Linked DNA regions of Homo sapiens: all the other regions are linked to region 3. The links come from fine-mapping of genetic effects on gene expression. A gene starts in region 3. Each other region holds a variant in brackets. All regions are shown on one strand. Distances are from middle to middle.

What was found. PIP is the estimated chance that this variant, and not a neighbour inherited with it, causes the effect.
Region 1: its variant is fine-mapped to the expression of PLCB3 in whole blood (TOPMed, PIP 0.95).
Region 2: its variant is fine-mapped to the expression of PLCB3 in whole blood (INTERVAL, PIP above 0.99).

What each region holds. Positions count from the first base shown.
Region 1 is chr11:64,190,510-64,193,264 of GRCh38, reverse strand. STIP1 (stress induced phosphoprotein 1) reads right to left here. Exons shown (of 14, transcript NM_006819.3): 2 at 1-187. Among named protein-coding and RNA genes, the nearest start is that of STIP1, 5.7 kb to the right of the region's middle. The variant T/C (reference allele first, on the strand shown) is at 1,381.
Region 2 is chr11:64,144,343-64,147,097 of GRCh38, reverse strand. All of the region lies in intron 3 of MACROD1 (mono-ADP ribosylhydrolase 1), which reads left to right. Among named protein-coding and RNA genes, the nearest start is that of MACROD1, 20 kb to the left of the region's middle. RefSeq lists an enhancer at 630-1,131. The variant G/A (reference allele first, on the strand shown) is at 1,468.
Region 3 is chr11:64,249,877-64,252,631 of GRCh38, reverse strand. It overlaps PLCB3 (phospholipase C beta 3), which reads right to left and starts at 1,102. Exons shown (of 31, transcript NM_000932.5): 1 at 884-1,102. The coding sequence starts at 982. RefSeq lists silencers at 120-333, 821-1,290 and enhancers at 1-369, 370-1,015, 2,310-2,755.

The sequences.
Region 1 (2,755 bases), 59 kb after region 3:
CGACAGTCTTGCAGCCATCCTCATAAGCCTTCTGGTAGTCTCCTTTCTTGGCATAGGCAGCAGAACGGTTGCTGTACAGCACGTGGTTGTGGGGATCCAGCTTAATAGCTTCGGAGTAGCACTGTAAGGCATCATCGATGTTACCCACGCTCAGGGCCTTGTTGCCTTTCTCCTTCAGCTCATTGACCTGAGGGGAAAGGAACACACAGCTTCTCTATGATGTGCCCATTTAATCCCAAGCTTTAAAGACAACACTCATTCTTTCATGTAGTTACCAACAAATAAATAGGTGACTTTACAGATCAGAAGAGAGAAAACCGGTTCATTTATTTAATTTCTCACACCTTCCCTAAGGAGCCAGCAAAGAAAAAATAAGCAGGGGCAAAGAGCCCAGGCTGCACTCCACGCTGGCCCCCATGTGACGAACGAGGGCTCTGCCACTCTTCCGGTCTCCACATGGAGCTCACGAAGCCACTCCAGAATGTGCCACATGCTCCTTCCATGGAAAAGTCAATTCATTTGCCACAGATTTCCAAAGCATCCAAATGACAAACAGAGCACAGCCCTAGTCACCCCTCACAGGAAGAAGGTGGGCGGAGTGGCACTGATACATGCTCCAGTGACCCAAAGGCTGTGGGATGGCAGCGGAGACTTCTCTTTCTTGGGAGCGGCAAGATGCTTGCCTATGGCATAGTTGTCATCTCCTCCCATCAGGGAAGAACCAGTCTCCATTTCCTGGTGTGGCAACATGTCACCACAGGATAGATAAATGTTCATTAATGGGTAACAGTCAAGCTAGCTCCCCAAATTGATTCCTGCCATTCTTAAATATTACATTACAAAGGGGATGGAGGATGAAGAAATGCTACTGTGGTTTAAACCTCTCCCTTCTCAAACATATAAAGTGCAAGAAGTAAGGATACAGCGGGGTTTTGTTTTGTTGTGTTTTTTGAGACAGAGTCTCACTCTGTCACCCAGGCTGGAGTGCAGTGGCACGATCTCGGCTCACTGCAACCTCCGCCTCCCAGGTTCAAGCGATTCTCCTGCCTCAGCCTCCCAAGTAGCTGGGACTACAGGCGCACACCCCCACACTTGGCTAATTTTTGTAATTTTAGTAGAGACGGGGTTTCACCATATTGGTCAGGCTGGTCTTAAAACTCCTGACCTCAGGTGATCCACACGCCTTGGCCTCCCAAAGTGCTGGGATTACAGGTGTGAGCCACCGCGCCCGGTGGGATACAGCAGTTTTAAAAAGTGAGGCAGCTCTGCCTGGCCGCCCCACCGACTGGGAAGTGAGGAGCGCCTCTGCCCGGCCACCCAACTGACTGGGGAGAGAGGAGCACCTCTGCCCACCTGCCCCACCGTCTGGCAAGTGAGGTG[T/C]GCCTCTGTTGGGCCACTGTGCAACCCTCCAAGTGTGAAGTGACAGCCTTGTGTGTGATCTTTCTGCCCTCCCCAAGTTTGCATTTTCCACATTAAATTTTACTTTTTCATTAAAAAAAAAAAAAAAGTGAGGCAGGCCTTGGCCCTGTCAGAACAGTGTCCTCACTAAAGGGTTTCTCCTTACTGAGCTGCCCCACAAAAGGTCAGGTGCCCCACAGCAGCCTACCTGAGGGCAGGCAACCCCTTGAGAAGCTCATTGTATTTATTATTATTATTTTTTGAGACAGAGTCTTGCTCTGTCCCCAGACTGGAGTGTAGTGGCACAATCTTGCCTCACGGCAACCTCCGCCTCCTAGGTTCAAGCGATTCTCCTGCCTCAGCCTCCTGAGTAGCTGGGATTACAGTCACCCGCCACCACGCCCAGCTAATTTTTGTATTTTTAGTAGAGATGGAGTTTCACCATGTTGGCCAGGCTGGTCTCGAACTCCTGACCTCTTAATCCACCCATCTCAGCCTCCCAAAGTGCTGGGATTACAGGCGTGAGCCACCGCGCCTGGCCATATTTATTTTTTTTTAAAGATGGCATCTCACTCTGTTACCAGCCTGGAGTGCAGTGGCATGATCACAGCTGACTGTAACCTTGAGCTCCTGGGCTCAAGCAATCCTCCTGACTCAGCCCTTTTTTTTTTTTTTTTTTGAGACAGAGTTTCACTCTGGTTGCCCAGGCTGGAGTGCAATAGCACAATCTTGCCTCACCACAACCTCTGCCTCCCAGGTTCAAGCGATTCTCCTGCCTCAGCCTCCTGAGTAGCTGGGATTACAGACACGCACTACCACATCCGTCTAATTTTGTATTTTTAGTAGAGACGGGGTTTCTCCATGTTGGTCAGGCTGGTCTTGAACTCCTGGCCTCAGGTGATCTGCCTGCCTTGGCCTCCCAAAGTGCTGGGATTACTGGTATGAGCCACTGCGCCCGGCCAACTCAGCCTTTTAAGTAGCTGGGACTACAAGTGTGTGTCACCATGCCTGGCTAAATGTTTTTTTCTTTTTGTGGTAGAAATGGTGTCTCACCATATTGCCCAGGCTTGTCTCAAACTCTTGGCCTAAAGCAACCCTCCTGCCTCAGTCTCCCAAAGGTGAACCACCACACCAGGCCAAAATACACTTTTAAGAGGTAAACGTTCTGTGAGATAGAGTTGTCACCGAAGTTACTAACTCATTCTATGTATTATCCACCCACGACCCAGTAAATTGATGCAAGAAATAGTTTTGTCAAGAGAAATGATTTTAGGCTGTAATCTCAGCACTTTGGGAAGCTGAGGCGGGTAGATTAACTGAGGTCAGGAGTTCGAGACCAGCCTGGCCAACATGGTGA
Region 2 (2,755 bases), 110 kb after region 3:
TGAGATGCTGTCTCAAAAAACAAATAAAAATAAGAAAATCAGATTCTGTTTCCCTACTGATCTCCTGGCATTTGAAATTCAGGACTGGTTTCCACTCTTACATTATTGGGCTATGAGATGTGATTGGGATGTGTGTGATGGTGTGTGTGTGAGGTCAGGAGTTTGGCCTGTGTGTGTGATGTGTGCGGTGCGTGTGTTTGTGATGTAGCATGTTTGTGTCTGTGCTTGTGTGATGCGTGGGGTGTGTGTGATAGAGTGTGTGTGTGAGGTCAGGAGTTTGGCCTATGTGTGTGGGGTGTGCGTATGCATTTGTATGATGTGTGTGATGCGTGTGTGTGCGTGATGTGTGTGTGTCTGTGCTTGTGTGATGCATGGGGTGTGGGTGATGGAGGGTGTGTGTGGTGTGATGTGTGTTTGTATGGGATGTGGTGGGAGTGAGGTGGGAGGTTGGGCAGAAGCATAGAAGTGGGGATGCCTGGCTGGCGGGTGGCAGGGCTTGAAGTTGCAGGGACGGAACAAACCCCCACACCCTCAGGCACAGTGCAGGCCTCCCTGGGCCCTGTCCCCGTGGGCTGCCAGCTGAGGCCACTTGCTTGGGTAGCACCCGGGAGAGTCTCAGGTTCCTGCCATCTGTGTCGGCCACGGCTCCTGCCCACAGGAGCATGGCGCATCCGTCTTAATGAAATTGGGCTGCCATGTGCAGGAGATAAGCCAGGGAGCCCCCGCAGGCCCCCTCTTCTGGAGGAGGAGGTTCTCAGAGCCGGTGCCTGCCTCTCCAGCCTTGCCTATGACCTCAGTCCTGTGTCTGGGGAGAGCGCCGGTCTCAGGGTATCCACTAGGGGGTGCTGTGGCTGCCAGGGTGTTTATGTCTCCTTTTTACCACGGGGGTGCAGTGACCTTGACTAGGCCACCTCCCTGCCCTTGAGTTTCCTGGTGCACCAGACCTGTGTGTGTGGACTTCTTGTTCCTGACAGATAGCAGAGTCCTGGGCAGGACATGTCCGGGCACAAAGAAAGATCCCCATTCTTGGCCAGGCACGGTGGCTCACGCCTGTTATCCTAGCACTTTGGGAGGCCGAGGCGGGCGGATCGCTTGAGGTCAGGAGTTTGAGAGCAGCCTGGCCAACATGGTGAAACCTGGTCTCTACTAAAAATACAAAAATTAGCCGGACACAGTGGCATGCGCCTGTAGTCCCAGCTAGTCAGGAGGCTGCGGCAGAAGAATTGCTTGAACCTGGGAGGTGGAGGTTGCGGTGAGCCGAGATTGTGCCACTGCACTCCATCCTGGTTGCTGGGTGACAGAGCAAGATTCCATCTCAAAAAAAAAGAAAAATCCCCATTCTTGGCCAACCCAGGGGTCCAGCTGCCTGGCTTTGGCCTTCATGTCATAAGAGGACAGGGCAGAGATGGATGAAAGGCTTTGTGCAAAGATGGAAGGGATCTTTTGTTTCAATGCCAGCCCAGAGCA[G/A]TGAGCATGGGCTGTGCGCACCGTGGCCAGGAGCAGGTCAGGGTCCCAGCACCCCTGCTGGCCACTCCGTGGCCTCTACTTCCTCATCTGAGAAATGGCATCAGCATCAGTTCCACCGAAGGGCAGGGGTGAGGAGGACAGGAGTTCAGGCCTGTCCAGCCCTGGGCCCAGGGCCTGGCACACGGAGAGTCCCCAGGAAATGATTACTGGGAAGTCAGGAGCGAGAGCTACTAAGCAGAGTATAATGTGACAAAGTGCTAGGAGCAAGGTCTGAACAAAGTGCCACGCAACGCCGCAGGGACCAATTAATTCTGCAAGGAGGTGGCGGGAGGCGAGGCGGGTCAGCTAGCCTTTGAGGGGCCCAGGTGTGCGGCGGGGACGGGTGGGAAGCCATGTTTCACAGCGACAAGCCGACCTCGCAGGGAGATTTTTAAGCCGCTTATTTATTTAAAATAAGTCATGAAGTGGCGCTCTATCTCCTTAAGTCTTGGGGCTTTGATTTGTGAGAATCTGCTGGCCGCTTATCACCGCCCTCCTCCCAAGCACCGGCAGCCCCTGCCTCATCCTCTCCTGCCGCCTGGAGGGCCCAGCAGAGCCTGGCCTGGTGAGAAGGAGCAGGCCAGAACCTGAGTGGCCACCTGAGCGGCCACCCGCCCCTGCGTCCGGCTGTCCCTGGGCACTGCTTGGAGTCAGTGATTTAGAGACCGCCTTGATGGACTACCAAGCAGGGGCCCCGCAGGGATGCGGACTGCCTTGTGGGAAGTGATCTGACGCTGAACTGTCGCCGTAAATCGCTTTATCTGTCACTTCAGATTTTAATGTGTTTGCTGAGGCTTGCCGGCCACCACGACAGCAGAAACCTCTCCGCAGTGGGCAGGGGAGATGGCCGGGCCAGCGACGAGTCCAGGGCTGGCTGTACAGCAGACTTTGCAGCTGGAACCTGTTAGCAACATGGGCCTGGCCCTGGGCTCCCTCCTCCTCGGGGAAGCCAAGCGCAGGTGGGGCCGGGCTCCCTCCTCCTCGGGGAAGCCAAGAGCAGGTGGGGCCGGGCCACTTTCCGGTGCCCTGGCCACTCTGGATGTGCTCAGTGCTCTCAGAGGCCCGAGAGGCAGGCAGGATTGTTACCCCATTTTCGGGGATCAGATAACAAGCCCCACCTCGGCAGGTGACTGAGCCAGAATTCGAACTCAGGCACTTTCATCCATGCAACATACATAGATGATACGGCTGCTGTGCACCACGCCGTGGGGTGGGCCTGGGCTGCAAAGGACACAGTCTCTAATTCCGG
Region 3 (2,755 bases):
GCTCCCACGCCTACCCCGGGGCCCCACCCAGCCGGAAAAGAGCCCAGAGTCTTCCAGGCCCGTGGCCTGACTGGGAAGGAGCTGCGAGGAAGCTCAGGCCGGCCGGGTGGAGGCCCTAGGGAAGGAAGGGCCCAGGGGGCAGAAGAGGATGCACCCAGGATGGGGATGGGCAGCCGAAGGTGGGGACACAGGCATTTGGGAAGCACCAGGGGCAGGACAGGGAAAGGGGGGCCAGGATGTATTGGGGTTCAAGGTCCCAAGCCTAAGGAGTGGGGAGCAAAGTTCCCAGGGGTGGAGGAACTTGGGGGGCAAAGTCTCCACTAGGGGGTGACTGGGTGCTCCCATCTGAACAGGGAGCTGGGCTGGGATCCAGAAGCAGGGCGAAGGGGTGCCAACCAGAACAGGGGGAAAAATGATGAATGGACGAGGACTGTTCAGGCAGGGCACCGGGGAGAGTAGGGGCGCCCTGGCACACACCCAGAATGAGGATGCCCCCAGCCAGCCTGGAAGTCAGGGTCCTGCAGCCGGGGAGTCTAGTGCTGGGCAGGGGTCTGGGCACCAGGCCAGGATCGGGGAACGAGAATTAGTCTGGCAGGGAGCGGTGGGAAGAACGAATGGAAAACGGGGGGACGGGGTTTATTGGGGTTCAAAGTCTCTGCGCCAAGGAGTGGAGGCAAATTTTCCAGAGCTGAGGGACTGGGAGTTGGGGGGACAAAGTCTTCATTACGGAGACGATCGGGGACTTAAGTTTCCGGGGCGCCGCCAGACTGGGATGAGGGTGGCGCCACGGGCAGGCGAGGCTGGGGTGGGGGTCCCCAGCGTCTGGTCGAGCTTGACTGAAAGAGTCCCGGGATTTGGGCGGAGCAGGGGCCCGCGCGCTTACCTCGTCCCATTTGATGAACTTACTCCCGCGCCGCAGGGTCTCCACCACGGTGGGCGGCTCCAACTGCAGCGCGTGGACGCCGGGCTGGGCGCCCGCCATGGCCCGGCCAGGGGCGGGTCGGGGACCCACGGAGCCCTGACGGGGACCGACGGCGCCGCTGCTCCCACCGCGCGGCCCGCTCCGGCCCCGCGGCGTCAGTGCCCGCCCGCCCGCCAGTCTGTCCCGGACCGACCAGAGCCTCGGCGGGGCCCGGGCGGGGCGGGGACGGGGCGGGGCCTCCCGGGCCCCGCCCCCTCCCACCGCGTCGGCTCCCCCTGGCGGCCGGGGCGGCGACTGCAGCCGGAGCGGGGATTGGGGCAGGGGCACGCGGACGGGTCGGGGGCTTTGCTGCGGGGCTCAGCAGAACCTGATTCTTCAGGCCTGTGGTGGAAGGAGGGCGCTGGGGGCCGAAGTGGCTGTTGGGGAGCAGCTGGAGGGACTGGGTGTAGAGGGCGCTGCTTAAGGCGGTCCGGGATCAGCCCACTGAGGTTTCCGAGCGACTAGGGCTGCAGTACCAGCGGAGGGCTAGACTTGGGCCGGGGGGTCGCTGCACAGCCCTGTCGCCCACCCTCTTCTGCCGCACTTAGCTGAATGCAGGAAAAGCTTCTTCCGCCCCCCTCTGCCCTGGCTTCGCCTCACCCACTCTTATGCCGCGCGGTCCCCCCTCCCTGGGAGCACTTAGCCGGCTAATGGACCTCCCGCCGGCAGGCACCCCTCCCCCGTCCCTAGCCCAGGGAGGCCGGGCGCCTGCCACCTCCTTTAAGGACCCAAGCATCCTGGTCTTCGAGAGTGAGCCCTAGAACAGCCCCCTTCTTGTTGCTGCAGACTCCCATGACTGGAACCTGACTGTGAGCCTCTTGGCTGGGAACCGCGGGGGGAACGCTGTTGTCTGCCCAGAGGGGTCAGAAGCTTTGTGGATGTCCCCAGACAGGAGGGTTGAGGAGGGGCTCTGCAGTGCCTGGCCCACAGCAGGTGCCCTGAAATCTGCGTTCCAGAGATGGGAGCGGGGAAGGCGCATGGGCAATGGGATGGGTGGGGGCTGCAGCCCCTCCCGCAGGGCTTAGCTGGTGGGGGGGGTTCCTGCCTGGGGGCCCCTGTGGGAGCCCCCCCAATACAGAGGCAGTAACAGCAGCAGGTTTAAAGTAGAACTCATCCAGAGGGGCCAGCCAAGTCACCTAGAAACCCAGAAAGAGATGCAGCTGGCTCTGGGGGAGGAGGGGTCAGCAAAGGAGGAGCTCCCCTGCAGGCCCCTTTGCCCCAGGCTCTGAGACCTCCACAAGGAGCCCTGCCTGGCCCTGGCCTTCCTCCACACCCCGCCAAGTTCTCCATCAACTCTAACCTGGCGGATCTCCTCGCTCTCAGCCCTGGCCCTGTGGGGTGTGATTATGATCTCCACTTGAGGCCCAGAGAGGGGAAGGGACTTGCCCAAGGTCACACAGCTTCTTAGGAGGATTTCAACCCTCCGACTTCCTGAGGCCCAGGAGCCTCTAGACCTCATTGGGAAAACAGAACCATGCAAGGTGGAGCTTGGCCTCTGCCCTCACAGGCTGGAGTTCAAATCCGGCTCTTGCTAGCAGCCTCTTGCTAGTGGCAGAACCTAGTCTCTCTAGGTGCCTCAGTCACCTTGTCCAGAACCTAAAGGTTGTTGTATACATAAGCAAATGGGTGGGAGATGCCAAATTGACATGAGTAGCTGGAAGCTGTGGGTATACCAGGGAGGGAGGAAAGGGCATAGGTCAGCTCTGGGGCAGTGGAACCTCCAGCTTGTGCCAGGGCTAGCAAAGCCTGGAGCCAAGGCCTGAGCTTAGGGGATCTGAGCTGTGGGCCCTAGGC